3 linked regions of the Homo sapiens genome follow. The protein of the gene in region 2 purifies or fractionates together with the protein of the main gene of each other region. This does not show direct contact. Each region holds a gene or a part of one and is shown on either strand. Other genes may lie near its edges.

Region 1 (3,984 bases), on a different chromosome or scaffold from region 2:
TTAATAAAACACTTAGGAGAATGTTGCAGGTAATGTGGTATAAATGTTAATAAGAAGAAAAATACTGCTTTGCTGAAAATAGAGTCCTGAAGGCTGAGTTTGGCACTGCTTCATCACTATGCAACTTTCTTCTTGATGACAGCTAGCTCTTTCTGAAGTTCAGTAAACTTGGGGGCAGTTTTCAAGTTTGTAATCCTAACACCTCAGCATTATTTTATTAAAATACTCTGTGGACACTGCCAAGAGACTGACATCCAGTATCTTCTTTCCACTTGCTCTTGTGGTTGCTGATTTGTCATTCCAGGCTATGGACAGACCCCCTAAGCCGAAAGTCTCCCAGAGGAGGATGCCAAAGCTCCGTGCGTCACTCTCAGAATGATATCTCCCATAATTAAGAGCTTCTGGTGCTGTCCATTTAATGGGAATCTGCTTTAAGTCAGAAGATGAGTACACACCACCATCCTCTTGACGAGACATTCCAAAGTCACTGATTTTCAGAACATTATTTTCACCTCCAGGCAGTTTCTTACAGCAAGGTCCCTGTGTATACATTTTTTACTCGAGATACACCATCCAGAATCAGCATCTAATGAAAATTTCACTGAGTTTTAGTTCATTCTTCTTTCTCTGAAAGGAGAGGAAATCGCCTCCAGGAACCAGTTCCTTAATGACGTAGATAGGCCGTCTTTGTGTGTGAACTCCTATACTTTTGACATTACTGGGATGATTATATTGCTTGAGGATTTTGGCTTCTAGTAAAAATTTTAATTTCAGTTCCTGGGGAAGACGTTCTTGACGTGTTTTAACAGCAACAGCAATTTTATCCTTTAATGTGACCTTAAATGTGTCACCAAAATTTCCCTTGCCTCTTGTAACGTGGCACCTTTATGATTGAGAACCCATTTCTTATTCTCCTAATGGCCATACTGTGATACCATGATGCTCTTAATTGGAACATTGACTTTTTTTTTTTTTGCAATTTAAACAATTGAGATAAAATTCATATAACATCAAATTTACCTTTCACTTTTTTTTTTTTCTTTTGGAGACCAAGTCTCGCTGTTGTCTCCCAGGCTGGAGTGCAGTGGCGCGATCTCGGCTCACTGTGACCTCCGCCTCCTGGGTTCAAGCAATTCTCCTTCCTCAGCCTCCTGAGTAGCTGGGACTACAGGCGTGCACCACCACGCCTGGCTAATTTTTGTATTTTTAGTAGAGATAGGGGTTTCACCGTGTTAGCCAGGATGGTCTCGATCTCCTGACCTGGTGATCCACCTGCCTCGGCCTCCCAAAGTGTTGGGATTATAAGCGTGAGCCATGACGCCTGGCCTCAAACTTGCCATTTTTAAAGTGTACAATTCAATGGTTTTTAGTATATCCACTATGTTGTGCAAGCATCACCGCTGTCTAATTCCAGAGCATTTCTGTCACCCCAAAAAGAAACTCCATGCCTATTAGCAGTCACTCCCAGTTCTTCCCTTCCTCGGCCCCTGGAAACCAGTAATGTACTTTCTGTCTCTGTGATTTTGCCTGTTTTGGACATTTCATTTAAATGGAATTATGCAATAATTTGTGGCCTTTTGTGTTTGGCTTTCACTTAGCATCATGTTCTCAAGGCTCATCCATGTTGTGGCATGTATCAGTACTGCATTCCTTTTTATGGCTAAATGATGTTTCATTGTATGAGTGTGTACCACATTTTATTTATCCATTCAGCAATTAATGGACAGGAACAATGGCTTTTAAGTATTAAATTGTAAGTTCAACATTAAATGTATCCACAGTTATTGATAATATCAAGATTATACATGGTGTGAACAGAATGCTGTGTCGAAATGGTATGTAAATTATTTGTCAGCATTTCATGTAAGTGATTATTTTCTAAGGACCCTTCTAGCCCTGGTTTTAAGAAATATGTGAATGTAGTATTTTCATCAATAAAGTTTAATGCATTAAGCATTAGCTTAAAATTTGAATGAAGGCAGATGTGAAGATATTTGCCACATGTTGTAATAATCATGTTTTGAAATTATTTCAATATGAAGTATTTGAAAAATGTCAATACATAAAGGAAAGGAAATGAGTATAATTAAGTCAATATATTTTTAAAGCAATTTTTATAATTTAGCAGACACTGCATCTTAATATAAGTTACTATTAAAATTGTGTCCTTGTGAAAAATGTGATGTCATTTTCCTTTTTTTGTTGATCATGTAAAATAGGTTACTTTTCTTTGCTACATTTTCTATTTAATAAGCTATTGCTTGCCGTTGTGGAATGTTTTACTTGTTGCTCCATTTTTTTCTCCCTACCCCCACCCCTCTCTCCCACACGCACACAATGTTCAATTTTTTTTTTAAGTCATCATTAGTGTGTTTATCTTTAATGGATTCTAAGAATGGACAAAAAGAAACACACAAATATTTCATCCTTTTCTGGGGACTCAAGTCTTTGTTACCGATGGAACTCATTAACTTCTTGTTCTTTCTTAAATCTTCCTCCCTCCTTACCTTTTCCTCTCCTTCCTTCTCTTCTTCTTCCTTTCTTCTCCCCTCCCTCCCTCCCTCCCTTCTTCCCTCCCTCCTCCTTTCATTCTCCTTCTCTCCTTCTCCCTTCCTTTTCTCCTACCTCCTTTGACTAAGCCTCCCTCCCCTACTCCCTCCTTTCCTTCCTTCCTTCCTTCTTCTCTATCAATATAATCACTTTGTTTCTTTCAGGTGAGATCGGACTGGAACTGTTCGGCTGCGACCAGAAATTTATTTTCCTGAGTAAATTGCCGAGAATTAAGAATGAAGAGGGCCATTTGCATCTCCTTAAATTATTCAGTTACCTGCTTTATTGCTCCATGTGGAAAACTTAAAATTGTTAAGTTGTGCATTACTGTATTTTAACTTGTTGCTTAGTTTCTACATGTTTATTTTCAGTAATGGCTGAAAGTGTTAACTGTTCCATACTTTTAGCACAATGTGCTGCATAAGGTTACCTGTGTACAGAGTTTTACTTTAGATTAACTAAATATTGCCTGGGTTCAGTTTTTATTTCCATTCTGAAATGCTTCCTTTTTATTGTTTGAAACTGAAAATAAACAATTGTTGAACCCTTTTGATTTTACCTCATTTTAAAACTGTTTTAATTTATTATTTGGCTTGTTCTTAATATTAGTCACTAAAAGCAGTGGGAGCATTGTCTTATGAAATGCTTAGGAATCATTTTATATAGTACATGTACAACATTAAACGTGTTTAAAAAAGAAAAAGGTACCAGCGATCACTTGTCCCTTGCCATTTTTTCTTGTAATTATGTTAGACAAATCTTGGCGGCGGGGGGATCAAAACATAATTGTTTTAATTCTACAGCTGTAGGAGCTTTGTATTGCTGAACTTTCATCTGGAAAAGTTTCACAGTGACATTTTTAAAAGAGAATTTTTTTATCTGCCGAATTCTACCAGTGTAACCTTTTTTCTAAATAAACAATAGTTTTCTCAAATGGTTGTATATTATTGTGTATATTGTTGCTTATTCAGAATAACTTAGCAAAGATAATTCATTAAGGTTCCTAGCCCTTCTCAGTTCTTATTCCATGGGCTACATTATTTTCCAGTGACATATCATCCAATAATAGGAAAATATCCTGTTTGATTACCTCTGTAGTTGGAGTAAACAGTGGACTTGGTAGCATGCCTGGATTTTTCCATTTAGTCTTCAGTTCCTTGGAAACGATACCTATGCAAATTAAAATTTTCAGAGAATGACAAAAAGGATATAACTTTTTAAAGAATTGAGAATTACTGAGCATATTTTAAATGAATTGGCAAAAGGGTATAAATCTTGATGTCTCTTTTCAGGTAATTGTAATTTGCAAAAATCGATGAGCAGAATATTTATGGGAGGGTGATATATTCAGTGACTGTTGAGTGCTTATAATGTGCCTGACATAAAAATAGATGTTTTGTTAGAGTGATTTTTGACTTTGAGAAAATAACTATG
Region 2 (6,733 bases):
ATTCCTCTTAGAAATCTAAGGAAGGTGCCCTATTGAAGACCAACATCTTGAGGTCCCATGTAGTCATTTCTTGCCCATGTGGGAACACATTACTGTTTGGTTGAGTACCAGGTGAAGTGATTGGCCTGCAGTTAGGGCTGTGTTGTGCAAAAATCACTTGTTTTGGGGTGTTAGAACCACATTTAGGCGAGAAGATCACTTTTGGGGAGCTTGGGAACTGAGGCAGGCCGCAGGTGCAGCAGAGGCATGAGCTTGCCCGGGCCCGCCCTCTTGTCTATGCTCATGGAGTGAAGGAGGGGCCAGCGGAATGGCCCAAACAACTGATTTGTTTTTCTTTTTTTAAATCTTTTTCAGACAAATACCATTGTGTTTAAGCGAAATGTGTGTATAATGCCAAATCACTGTACCCCACAACCCTGCACACCTCTACACTGGACTGTAATTTCTTGTTCCTAGTTTGTCTTGCTAGACTGTAAGCTCCGTGAGAGCAGGGACCGTGTCTGCTTGTTGAGTGGGCTTTCCCCTGTGCCTGCCAGCATGCCTGGCATCTAGCAGGTCTTCTGTAAAGATGGGATGAGTTTGTAAACCCTCCAGCCTCAGGAGTGGCTCCATCCTCTGAGGCTCTGGGGCCCTCTGGCAGGCTAGTCATTTTTCTGCCATGTACGTACAATGCTTTATTTTCATGTTGTATTTTCCTTTCTAGCCAGTAAGCAAGCTCCTAATGAGCAAGTTTCTTTGTGGTGTTATCTCTGTATCCTTTCATCAGGCCAGCCCAGAGTAAGTAGTGCTTCGAAAGTGTTTGGTAAATGAATGAATTATGGTAACCCAGCCCAGTTCTGGCATCACTGTCTGCAGGTTAGTCTAATTCCAGATGAAAGCCCCAGATTCGAAAAAGGGAAGATTATTCAGAAGTGCATATGGTTGTATAAGAAAAAAAAATCTCATTAAATAGACCTGAGTAAACTTCAAATTTTGATGATCTGGCCATGTCGGAGCTGAAGCTTACCAGCTCTCTAAAGCATTTGCTAGGGAATCATGCAGATGGTCCAAAATATTTTTTAGAAAAGCATTCATCTGTCCCGGGATAGAAGTAGAGGAAGCTGGTAGGCAGGCGCTAGACCCTAAAGAAGGACTGCTGAGCCAGTTCTTAAGCCTGTGGTCCTGTCGGTGAGGAAAGTGAGAGCAGTCCAGAGCAGGTGAAAAGAGCAGAGCTCATTCCTCCAGTGGCTCTTTTGCCTAAAGCAGCATTCCTCAAACTTCTCACTCGAAGCATTAAGTTACGGTGAGATGCTAACACACGCTTTAGACTTAAGTCAAAATTTACTGTGAAGCCACAGCAAACCATGGCTTCACAGATGAATTAGTTGCTACACAAATAAGTTCGATACATAAGTACAGTAATTGCTTTTAAACCTTATAATAAGCAGTAAATTAGAAGTTAAACCATGTTTTTCTTTTACGAACTGAAAGAAGAGAATGCTTTTGATACTGAGAATCGCACACTGTGTCCAGGAAGATTGTTCTTGCATAACCAGACCCACAATAAATATCTACAACTTTTCTTACATGTTTATAAAATAAATCTTAGAAGAAAAATATTGTAGCTTTTTTTTTTTTTTTTTTTTCAATGAAGCTCTATGAACATTTCACAGAACTTTGTTCCTGGGAGTAGTTAGGGAAATGCTGCTTCAAAAAGCCAATTTTAAGTAGTTGTGAGGCATCCGAGTGGAATTTGGCTGCACTATCCATAAAACTTGAGAGTATAGGCGGTATTTCACCTACCAAGGTCAGTACCCTGCCTCAGGATTCTTACTGTTCATTTGAGCAATTCCGGGGCCCTCTCTGGATGACCAGGTTCGTAAATAGTTGAGACTTTGTGTTATCTCAAATTGTCACCATCACCTCTGGGCCAATATAGGTTAGTGAGGTCGAGAGGCCCACACCATTGACAGAAGAGAATTCTCAGGCCGGGCTTGGTGGCTCACGCCTGTAATCCCAGCACTTTGGGAGGCCGAGGCGGGTGGATCACCTGAGGTCAGGAGTTCAAGAGCAGCCTGGCCAACATGTTGGAACCCCGTCTCTACTAGAAATACAAAAATTAGCTGGGCGTGGTGGTGGGTACCTGTAGTCCCAGCTACTTGGGAGGCTGAGACAGGAGAATTACTTGAACCCGGGAGGCAGAGGTTGCAGTGAGGTGAGATCGCGCCACTGCGCTCCAGCCTGGGCGACAGAGCGAGACTCCGTCTCAAAAAAAAAAGAAAGGATTCTCACCTTCCTGTCCCTTCCTAGGAGTTTTGTGGTAGTGTTCGATCCTGTGATGTGGCCATCTTCTCCTCAGGGCCTGTGAGAGGCAGGCAGCATCTTTAGCTGAGGTAGAATGCCTGTTGGGGAAAGTCAAATAGGATGGTGGCTGGGGCCGGGGCTCTGGGGACTCCTTCTGCCCCACATACTCAATTGGAAAGACTGAGCAAGTCCCCTCACCTCCCTGGGCCTCAGCTTCCCTGTCTGTCAAATGGAGGGCTCAACTGGGGTGAGCTCCAGTTTCCTTCTAGTGCTAACGCGTGTTCAAGGATCCTTGCTCTCCTTTCCGGGGAGCATCAGGGGTGTGGGCTAGATAGCAGGAAAGAAGTAGGGGTTTGTAAACAAGAGATCCAAGCCCCTGGACCCTTGGTCCCAGCACCCAGTGCAGCCCTCGCCCTCCCAGCCCCTTCCTTAGAAAGGACAAGAAAATCCACTCCTTGTTCTCTCCCTGTCCCATCACCCCCGCAGTCCCCCACAGATCTGAGGCCGGAGGATGCCAACATGGTGAGCACCCTCTTGCTGTCTTATTCACGTAGGCTTTTCTTGGTGCCTGCACATGGCTCTTGTAAGGCCACCAATCTTGCTGGATTATGACCTCATCTAACCTTAATTACTTCCTAAAAGCCATATGTCCAAGAAGAGCCACATTGGGGGTTAGGGCTTCAACATATGAATTTGGAGGACATTTACAGTTCAGTCCACAGCACCTGGTCATGTGGAGATCCCAGTCTGCATTTGTGGGATGAAATCTCTGCTTTTTTAAAGTTTACACACCACCTAGCTGGGCACGTGGCTCACACCTGTAGTCTCAGCACTTTGGGAGGCCGAGGCGGGGATCACCTGATGTCAGGAGTTCGAGACCAGCCTGGCCAACATGGTGAAACCCCGTCTCTACTAAAAATACAAAAATTAGCCGGGTGTGGTGGCGGGCACCTGTAGTCCCAGCTACTCGGGAGGCTGAGGCAGGAGAATCGCTTGAACCCAGGAGGCAGAGGTTGCAGTAAGCTGAGATTGTGCCACTGCACTCCAGTCTGGATGAAAGAGCAAGACTCCATCTCAAAAACAAAAATAAAAAAAGTCTACACACCAAAAGAGCTGAAGGCAGGAGAGTTTGTGGTGGTTCAGAGTCCTGATTCTGGAGGAAACAGGCCTGTTTGGAGTCCCAGCTCTGCTCCTTACTAGCTATGTGGCCTCTCAGAGGCAGCATCCTTATCTGAGAAATCGGGTTGACCTTGTAGGTGGCTGAGAGGCTCAGATGAGGGCTCGCATGTGAGGCCTTGGCACTGAGCAGGGCACTCCTACCGAGTGTTCAAAGGTCGTGAGTACCACTGCTCTGCAGCCCTGGGCTCTGGTCTCAGCAATGCCGTCACTCTTTCTGGCTTCCTAAGAGTCAGAAGGCAAGTGGGAGAATAGAACCATTTCCTGTGTCTGAAGGCTGTGCCTCAGTGCTTTTGACTCACTCTGAAGACAGCAGGCAGCCCTTTCTGTTTTTTTTGGAGATGAAGTCTTGCTCTTGTCGCCCAGGCTGGAGTGCAATGGCGCAGTCTCGGCTCACTGCACCCTCCGCCTCCCAGGTTCAAGCAATTCTCCCACCATAGCCTCCCGAAGCTGGGGCTACAGGCACACGCTGCCACGCCTGGCTAATTTTTTGTGTTTTTAGTAAAGACAGGGTTTCACCATGTTGCCCAGGCTGGTCTCAAACTCCTGAACTCAGGCGATCCGCCTACCTCGGCTTCCCAAAGTGCTGGGATTACAGGTGTCAGCTACCACGCCCGACCCACAGGCAGCCCTTTCACCTCACGCCGAGCACGTCTCCTCCATCCATGAACATTTTGCAACTTTTTTTTAAAGAGACAGGTTCATACTATGTTGTCTAGATTGGACTCAAACTCCTGGGCTCAAGCTTTCCCAAGTAGCTTGAACCTCTTAAGTAACTGTGACTACAAGTGCACCTGGCCACTTTTTCTGAGACGGAGTCTCGCTCTGTCACCCAAGTGGAGTGCAGTGGCATGATCTCCGCCCACTGCGAGCTCCGCCTCCTGGGTTCACGCCATTCTCCTGCCTCACCCTCCTGAGTAGCTGGGACTACAGGCACCCGCCACCACGCCTGGCTAATTTTTTTTGTATTTTTAGTAGAGACCGGGTTTCACCGTGTTAGCCAGGATGGTCTCGATCTCCTGACTTTGTGATCCGCCCGCCTCGGCCTCCCAAAGTGCTGGGATTACAGGCGTGAGCCACCGCGCCTGGCCCACCTGCCCATTTTTTAAAAACTTTATTCTTCCTGGTATCAAGGGGAGAAAGAAAAAAATTTTTTAAAATATTTAAAACTTTATTTTGAAATAATTTCAAAATCACAGCAGTTTGAAGGGTACAACAAAGAACATTTTGCCACATTTTCTCTTTCATTCGTTCCCTCCTCTTCTCCCTCACCCCTGTTTCTTCCTATCCTCTCTGAACCATGAACCATTTGAGGATTATTTGTATACATCATGCTCGTTTATCCGTAAGATGTTTTAGTGAACATTTCCCAAGAACAGGGACAGCCTCTCACATGCCCATGGTACAGTTCTCAAATTCAGGAAATGTGTAATATTCTCTGATCAGCCCAGGAGTTGCTAATTTGTAGTTCCTGTTTCAAATTTGCCAACTGTCCCAATAATGATTTTGAAAGCCGTTGTTTTTCTGGTCCAGGATCCAATCCAGGATCAAGCGCTGCCTTTAGTTGTCCTCTCTGCAGCCTCCTTTCGTTTGGAGCAGGTCCTCAGCCTTTCTGTCTTTCATGACATTGATGTTTGTGAAGAGTACAGTCCAGTTTCTGTTGTAGAACGTCCTTGAAGTTGGTCCCGGAATATTTGTTTAAAGTGAGTTGGGAAACCACATTCACATGTCTTTTGGTTATGTGTGTATTTGTCAAACAGCCAGCCTTGTGCTGCGTGCTGTGATGGGGAGCATTACTCAACAGAGCCTGGCCCTGACCTTGGGGATGTAGTTTGGGTTTGTGGGGAAAGCAGCTACCGCCAGGTGGGCTTTACGGACCCCTGTGTGTCTCATGACTAGAGGCACTGACGCTTGGATAAATACATACTGGATGGATGCAGGATGAGTCCGCATTCTAGAAGTGTGCAGAGGTACAGAAGTGGCCCTGCTCCCTGTCCAGCACCCAGTCATCAGCTTTCCCTGGCTTCCCGAGGCACCCTGACGTTCACACTCCAAACACAAAGTCTTCTCTCAGGAATCTCGAGTGAGCTGCAGTCTGGGTTCTAGCCCTGCCCTAGCAGGGATCTGCTCAGTGACTGGGCTGCTCTCTTCCTGCTTTAGGCCAATGCGGGGGAGAGGAGACCACTGTGACTCTCCCCAGTGCCCTTGGAGCGCAGAATGAAGTGAGGGGAGGAGGAGGGTCACGAGCCCTGGAGCGCTGGGAAGACAGGCTGTAGGCCGCAGGCCCCGATCCTGCCTGGGACGAGGTTCAACAGAAGTAGGATGGTTTCATCATGACCTGGCAGGAAAACCACCAGACCTGGAATTTTGCTTTTACAACTGTTTAACTTCTGTTTCATACAGGATGGAAACCGGTGAATTGTAATCTCACATAACCGAGCAAGATCTAGTAGTCATAAGCACTTTGTCAGAGCAAAGCAGACAAGGCAAAGTGTTGGAAATGTCATCGGATCTTCACAGAACCTTAGCCAAGCAGCCTTTCAATGCGAGAAACAAAATAACATGGATTTTTATCTAGTAATGAAGTCAACACCATTGTCCACCCTGGGTTAACACATTCACATCTCAAAGCGAATGGGGCTGCAGACACTCGTGTTAGAGAGCCTTGGAATGTCCTGCCTTTTTACGTTTAATTAAAATTAAATAAAATATACAAAATTCAGTTCATCAGTTGTTCTAGTGGCATTTTAAGGGTTTAGTACCATATGTGGCTCATGAGTACCATCCTGGACAGCGTCGACCTAGAGCAGTTCCATCCCCGCGCAGAGTTCTGTTTGACGGCGCCACTCTGCACTTCCAGCAGCCTGGGGAGCAGGGGTGCAGGAGAGTTCCTTCTGTGTCACAGACTTGGTCACACAGTACAGATCTCAGATCAGCACTTAAACACGACTGCCAGCTGTCAACGGCGTGTTCTGTGGAATGCTGGGATGCATCACAGGTATGCTGGAAGATGTATAGAATTTTACTTCTGTTATTCTGGTAACTCAGAGTCCTGTTCAGTCAGTTTCCACGTCAGGTTGCTGTCCTGGTTTTAAAGAGAATGAACGCAGCCGAAGTTGAATCGAGGCAGTGATTTCACTCAGTGCGTTGGGTCTTTCCACTCACCTGGCCCTCCAGAACCCCAGGGCCTTGAGTGCATGGGCTGGTACAAGAGCCCAGTTTTTGGCTGGGGAGGCACTTCCTATGGGAGGGGGACGCCTGTCTCAGTGCTGAG
Region 3 (7,000 bases), on a different chromosome or scaffold from region 2:
GTGCTGGGATTACAGGCGTGAGCCACCACGCCCGGCCACTAAGGTTTTTTTAATCCCTTACTTTTTATCAAAATTTTATAACAAAGATTTGACTGGTTGAGAAGTTTTTTTGTTTTGGTGTTATATTTTTATGACTATAAATAGCCTTTCCTTTTATGTTCATCATTTTTACCAAGTTCAGTTGTCTTAGCCATATGTTGCAGATATAAATTTTGCCAAGAAGGTGATTCCTTCATCAGGTTTTGTCAATTAATAACCTTCATCGTGGGCAGTTTTAGTTCTGTTTTATTTATTTACTAATAGATTGAATCAATCTATTAGTAATAGTCCCTAAACACTTGCTAAAAGACTGAAAAGTTTTATTTTATTTTATTTTATTTTATTTTATTTATTTTTTTGAGACAGAGTCTCGCTCTGTCACCCAGGCTAGAGTGCAGTGGTGCAATCTTGGCTTATTGCCAGCTCCGTCTCCCGGGTTCACACCATTCTCCTGCCTCAGCCTCCCAAGTAGCTGGGACTATAGGCGCCCGCCACCATGCCCAGCTAATTTTTTTTTTTTTTTTGTATTTTTAGCAGAGACGGGGTTTCACCGTGTTAGCCAGGATGGTCTCGATCTCCTGACCTCATGATCCGCCCGTCTCGGCCTCTCAAAGTGCTGGGATTACAGGCGTGAGCCACTGTGCCTGGCCTGAAATGTTTTATTTGTTTGGTAGTCAGTTCTCCATTTGAGGTGGTGAAGGGGGCAAAGACCTTGGGGAACAGGGATACTCAGTGAGACACAGTAGGGAAGAGCTGGAAGCCTCCACTGTCCTAGCATGGAGTTCCTGAAGGCATGCTGGGGCCAAAACGCAGGACCGGCACGTGCTGCCCAAGTTGCTCCTGACGTTATCCATGGAAAGATGAAGGAGAACCCCCTTTGGTTCAGGGAAAGAATGGGCCTTGTCATCCTTTGTGATAAAATTACTACATTACCCTCCCACATTATCTCTTTTTTGCTTGTCACATTTAATGACAAACTGTGCCCGAACCATCCCAGGTGGGTGGCAGTGGCGTCACTATTTCTCTCCGCTTGTAGCTGTGGGTCTCCAGTGTATGTGATTGTATCTTTTTCTGGGAACATACAGGGGGCCTTTTCCTGTGATGAGCATAAGATTTGGTCAAAGTGAGATAGACATAGCACCAAAGCTATACACTTGTTCTCTCTGTAGCAGAAAGGAGTCTGTTCTGCTTTTATGAAAATTGAAATTATTTCTACTGATGGTGTCATGGGACTTTGCTCCCCTGAGGTAAGGCCTTAGGCACCATATAAATCTTGAAGGGATGAGTTTTTTAAAAATTAATGATTAAGAGTACTAGTCTGTTTGATCAGACAATATAAAGCCACCTCTAGCACTTACTAGCAGTGTGATCTTGAATAAGCCATATCTTTTAAAGCCTTGAGTTTTTCCTCTATAAAATGGAAATGATAATCCTCCCTCATAGGGTTGTAAGGATGCAATGACCTCAAGCATATAAACGGTCTGGCCCACAGAAAGCCTTCAATAAATGGTGGCATTGGTCATCAGTGAGACGTGGCATTACCATCCCCAAATGCCCAAGCCTATGTTGAAGAAAGATGTTGGCTGCATTCTCACTGCTTACTGTTTTTCCTTTTCTAGTGACTTGCTGTCTCCTGACTCAGTCCTGAGTTGCTTGTATCCTGGGGATCATGGAAAGAAAACTCCGAATCCAGCCAATCAGTATCAGTTTGATAAAGTTGGGTGAGTCAGCAGTTTCCTCCTCTCCGAGCTCTCTACTTCTGAGTTTCTCTGGTGGCTCAAGCTAAATGCTGGAGACCTGTTAGGGCCAGAGGTGACCCAGAGGATAGGAAAGACCACAGGGTAGAAGGAAATGTTTGTTCTTTCTTGCTTACAAGGCAAAGGGAGATCACAAAAAGGGTGGAAGGATCAAAACTCGGAAACATGCTGGGTGTGGTGGCTCACGCCTGTAATCCCAGCACTTTGGAAGGCCAAAGCAGGTGGATTCCTTGAGCTCAGGAGTTCGATACCAGCCTGGGCAACATGGCAAAACCCTGTCTCTACAAGAAATACAAAAATTAGCCAGGCATGGTGGTGGGCATTTGTAGTCCCAGCTACTGGGGAGGTTGAGGTGGGAGAATTGCATGAGCCCAGGAGGTTGAGGCTGCAGTGAGCCATGGTCATGTCGCTGTACTCCAGCCTGGGGGCAACAGAGCCAGACCCTGTCTCAAAACAAAAACAAAAAGAAAAACAAAAAAAACCCTCTGGAAGCATAATAATACGTGATACAATAAAAATGTTTGACATTTTAATTATCCGAGGATTAATTTTTAAAAGATTTTCTAAATTGGTAGACCAATAAAGACATTAGTACACTGCCTTTGTATTTGATATTTGCTTATAAGTTGAAGGCTGCAAGAAGAAAAGGAAAAAGAGGAAAGTGAATGTGAGAGAGATGAAATTCACAGTAGGGAACTGACAAAGTTGAAGGGCTTTGCCAGCAGCCTGGCTGTGAACATGGCCAAACCTGCAGGACTGGATGGTTTGTGGGGCATGGGAGGGTGGGAGGAGGCTGTATCCTGGGACCACAGCAGAAATGACTTACAGCACAATTTTATTTATCTTCTTTTCTGCAGCATCCTGACTTTGAGCGACTATGTACTTGAGCTAGGTCACCCCTATTTGTGGGTGCAGAAGCTGGGTGGCCTCCACTTCCCCAAAGAGCAGCCCCAGGTCTGTACACTGATCTCATCTAGTTGGCTGAGGAGCTTACCTCTTCTCTTCCTGTATAGACTCTAGAAAGGCCAGGCCAGGTGCGGTGGCTCATGCCTATAATCCTTGTACTTTGGGAGGCTGAGGCAGGTGGATCACCTGAGGTCAGGAGTTTGAGACCAGCCTGGCCAACATGATGAAACCCCATCTCTACTAAAAATACAAAAAATTAGCTGGGTGTGGTGGCACGTTCCTATAATCCCAGCTATTCAGGAGGCTGAGGCAGGAGAATCACTTGAACCAGGGAGGCAGAGGTTGCGGTGAGCTGAGATCATGCCACTGCACTCCAGCCTGGGCAACAAGAGCAAAACTCCGTCTCAAAAAAAAAAAAAAAGGCCTGTCATGGCCTTTGGAGTTTTGAACTGGCAGAATGTGTCCCCTCAGGGCTGTGACCTGTCTTCTATCCACTCAGGACACTAAAATGTCTTAGACTTACAAGAGTTTACGTACCTTTTGCATTTTCTCTGAGCCTAGTAGCCTTTTAGACCCAGGCAACTTGAGTCCTTGCTCTGGGACTCATGTCTGCAGGCTCTGCTGCCCTTGTTCTTGTGTGCAAGTACCAAATATGAGGCATGAGCAGAAATCCAGGGGGCCTGGCCCCTTAGCAGAAGCCTGCCTTTCCTCAGGAGTTGGACACAGCTTCTCAAGAACGCAGCATATTGTGTTGTTTCTGCCAGGACTCAGCGTCTGGCCTGTCATAGCAGATAAACCTTGCCATGTCTAAAGGGTACCCATCTTGGGGCATGGATAATCCAGGGTGCCGCAGACAGGCAGGTCCCAGGAGAGAGATGGTGCCCGGAGGAAGGGATGGGGGAGCACACGTGTATGTGTCTCATTGTCACTCACAGCAAACAGTGATTGCTGACCACTCGCTGAGCGCCAGCCACATGGAGACCACCATGAAACTTCTGAAGACCAGGGTGCAGTCCCGCCTGGCCCTCCACAAACAGTTTGCATCCCTAGGTAAGCTGATGATGGGGCAGTGGTTTAAGAGTCACTCAGACAACACACGGACAACAACAACTTAGCCTTTCACTCAAAACTTGAATCCTGATGACAAATACAAGACCTGGATTCCTGGCTTTACGGAGTGGGCATCTTGGCAGAGCCACTGGGGAGAGCTCCAGGCCTGTCCAGGCAGAGGACCGAGCTCCCCCTTAGAGCCATCAGTGCTGTCCTGCCTCACAGAGGAGGCCCAGAGCCATTGGGTGGCACAAGTTTGTGGACTGGTCGGGGCAGTTCATCCTAGGTCATGCATTGCAGATTTTGATGTGCATTCGACACATATTTAGTGAGATCCTGATTCATGCCAGGCACTGAGCATAGTGCTGGGGGAAGAACTGAGCACAGTGAACCCCTGCCCCTGGCTCTGTGGCTCACAGTCAGCTTTTTGAATATAGCTATCCAGGGAGCAACTCGCATATCCCTTCCCCAAGGCCTACTGACCTCGTGTTCCCCAGGGTGAGGCTGAGCCTATGTTTTCTTCTAAGCTCCCAAGTGATAATGATGAGCCACTGACTTAGGTGGTGGCATTTGGGGGCTTCTTTTAGTTTATTCACTCAGTAAGTGGTTGTCAAATGCTTACCATGTGGCAGGGGGATGGGGTCAAGATTTTTCTGACCTAAAAGAGTCTCTGGGACAGGCGCAGTGGCTCTTGCCTGTAATCACAGCACTTTGGGAGGCCAAGGCAGACAGATCACTTGAGGTCAGGAGTTCAAGACCAGCCTGCCAACATGGTGAAACTCCGTCTCTACTAAAAATACAAAAATTAGCTGGGCATGGTGGTGTGCACTTGTATTCCCAGCTACTCAGGAGGCTGAAGCAGGAGAATTGCTTGAACCTGAGAGGCGGAAGTTGCAGTGAGCTGAGATCGCATCACTGTATTCCAGCCTGGGCAACAAAGCGAGACTCCATCTCAAAATAAAAAGTAAAAAATAAAAAAGAGTCTCTGTCAGGAAAGGCATTGGGTTTCCAGGACACATCTGGAGACCACTCCCCACCAGTTCTTAGACTCCACATGGCTGCCGATCTCTCCAGAGCACTGATGTTTGTCCATCGGGCCGTGCTCCCCATCAGCACTGCTGAGTTTGTTTTGTCCCAAGGTAGGGAACTTGTCATTCTGGACAGTACTTACTGTGTTGGCATATTTGCTTATTTAAATGCCAGCAGGAATTTACCCTGGAGCAGTTATCTGGCTCTTCTCCCTGACACACAACACTTCAGTTGTTTCCTCCATCAAGGTCAGCTATGAAAACACAGGCCTCTATGCTATTTGATCTAATTAACAGTCACTGCTGCAGGGGCACCCTCCCTAGTTCTGACTGTAAGGGTTTTTCTTTGGCAGGCTATCATTTGCATTAAAGAGAAAGCACCATAAGTGCTGGCACTGGATCTGGCCACAAGCACATAGCACTGGGTGAAGGTCAGGTTGACATGCTTGCATTCCTGGCACGTGTTGACCTGGGTACTTCCTGAGTACCAGGTATACCAGGATAGCTGGCCGGGCCATCTGAGCCCTTCAGAGAGCCCCAGGAGGATGCTAGTTACCCATCTGTGGCACCTGATTTCTACCTGTGACGTCATCTGTCTTGTTCTCTTTTAGAACATGGCATTGTGCCAGTTACCAGTGATTGCCAGTACCTCTTCCCTGCCAAGGTTGTCTCTCGCCTGGTGAAATGGGTGACAGTTGCCCATGAGGATTACATGGTAGGTGAAGGAGTGACAAGTTACCCTTACTGTCCTGAGGATTGCAGGACCATGTCACCTTTCAGCTCCTGCCACCTCACTGGAAGAGCAGGGGGTTTAACCAGAGGAGCCAGCAGTTCACCTCTTGTCTGTGGTACCTCTTCTAGGAGCTGCACTTCACCAAAGACATTGTGGATGCGGGACTGGCTGGGGACACCAATCTCTACTACATGGCGCTCATCGAAAGGGGCACAGGTAATTGCTCTGCTGATTACAGGGGTTCTAGACAAAGGGCGCTGCCAAGAATCAAACACTCTCCGGGGCTGCCCAAAGCAGAAGATCCTGGAGTCCTGCAAGGACTTAACAGATAATAATGATCGTGAGAGCCTGTTCAGCAAGGACTCATTCTGCAACACAGTCACACACACGCTGTGTATCACTGAACCCTCACTGCAGTCCTAGGGGTGGTGCTTTCATTTCTATTTTACATGGGAGGAAATTCAGGCTTAGTTGCAAGCCCAGTCTGAGCGCTGAGCCTGAGCTCTTTGCTCCTTCCTTCACCGCTTTCTAGTACCGGACATCTCCTCCTTCTCCCTCTTCATAACAGGGCTGAGGTGTCACCCTCAGGTTGTAAAGGGCAGGGCCACAGGGCCTCGCTCCCTCTTCTGCAGTCCCTGCACTCACTTTAGAGGCATTGAAAGCTCTGATTCTTCATACCTCTTCTGGCATCTGACTCTGCCAGGGCTCCCTGCTGAAGTCCTGGGATGTTGTGTTTGGGCCGTTGTGCTGTTGTCCCACCCAAGCCGCAGCAAGCCTGGCACTGCCCGTGGGATCTGACACCCTCAAGACTTGGTGCTGAGCTGAGGAAGTTGTCTGTAGTTCTAAGACAGTTCCAGAACTGTAAGGAAAGGCTGAACTCTTTGGTATCAGAGTTTCTGTCCTCACTACCCCACTTTCTTCTCTTTCTATTCTTCATGTCTTTTAAAAAAAAAATTCTGAAGAAACTGAATATTTCAGATACAGTTGAGGCCTCCCTATCCCACTTTATTCCCTTTCTCCTAATAAGTGACCACTATTTGGATTTTATGCATTTGCTTTCCATCCTTTCCCCGCTACACCCTTTTTTTTTTTTTTTTCAGTAGAGATAAGGTCTTGCTTTGTCGCCCAGGCTGGAGTGCAGTGGCACGATCATAGCTCACTGCAATCTTGAACTCCTGGACTCAAGCAATCCTTCTTCCACCTTAGCTCCCTGAGTAGCTGCGACTACAGGTATGCTACCATGCTCAGCTAAGATTTTTTGTTTTTGTTTTTGTTTTTTTGTAGAGGCATGTTCTTACTATGTTGCCAAGCCTGGTCTCAAACTCCTGGCCTTTCTTCCAAAGTGCTGGGATTGTAGGCATCAGCCATCATGCCTGGCCTCTCCCCTTTCAAAATTTAATTTAACTTATTTTTTGAGACAGGGTCTTGCTCTGTTGCCTAGACTGGAGTACAGTGGCTCAGTCATGGCTCACTGCAGCCTCAACTGC

The links. The genes of interacting proteins can lie anywhere in the genome.
Region 1: the proteins of NCBP3 (region 2) and THOC2 purify together in Homo sapiens (co-immunoprecipitation; 3 studies listed by BioGRID and IntAct, with this or other methods). This does not show direct contact.
Region 3: the proteins of NCBP3 (region 2) and THOC5 purify together in Homo sapiens (co-immunoprecipitation; 3 studies listed by BioGRID and IntAct, with this or other methods). This does not show direct contact.

Annotation. Positions count from the first base shown.
Region 1 is NC_000023.11:123,600,069-123,604,052, reverse strand, and holds the end of THOC2 (THO complex subunit 2), read left to right. Parts: intron 1-304; exon of another isoform or gene 305-2,714; 3' UTR 2,715-3,484; downstream 3,485-3,984. UniProt on the Homo sapiens protein: Component of the THO subcomplex of the TREX complex which is thought to couple mRNA transcription, processing and nuclear export, and which specifically associates with spliced mRNA and not with unspliced pre-mRNA.
Region 2 is NC_000017.11:3,801,611-3,808,343, reverse strand, and holds the end of NCBP3 (nuclear cap-binding protein subunit 3), read left to right. Parts: 3' UTR 1-6,186; downstream 6,187-6,733. UniProt on the Homo sapiens protein: Associates with NCBP1/CBP80 to form an alternative cap-binding complex (CBC) which plays a key role in mRNA export. NCBP3 serves as adapter protein linking the capped RNAs (m7GpppG-capped RNA) to NCBP1/CBP80.
Region 3 is NC_000022.11:29,515,758-29,522,757, reverse strand, and holds part of THOC5 (THO complex subunit 5), read left to right. Parts: intron 1-1,658; coding exon 1,659-1,760; intron 1,761-2,653; coding exon 2,654-2,750; intron 2,751-3,637; coding exon 3,638-3,752; intron 3,753-5,391; coding exon 5,392-5,495; intron 5,496-5,641; coding exon 5,642-5,729; intron 5,730-7,000. UniProt on the Homo sapiens protein: Component of the THO subcomplex of the TREX complex which is thought to couple mRNA transcription, processing and nuclear export, and which specifically associates with spliced mRNA and not with unspliced pre-mRNA.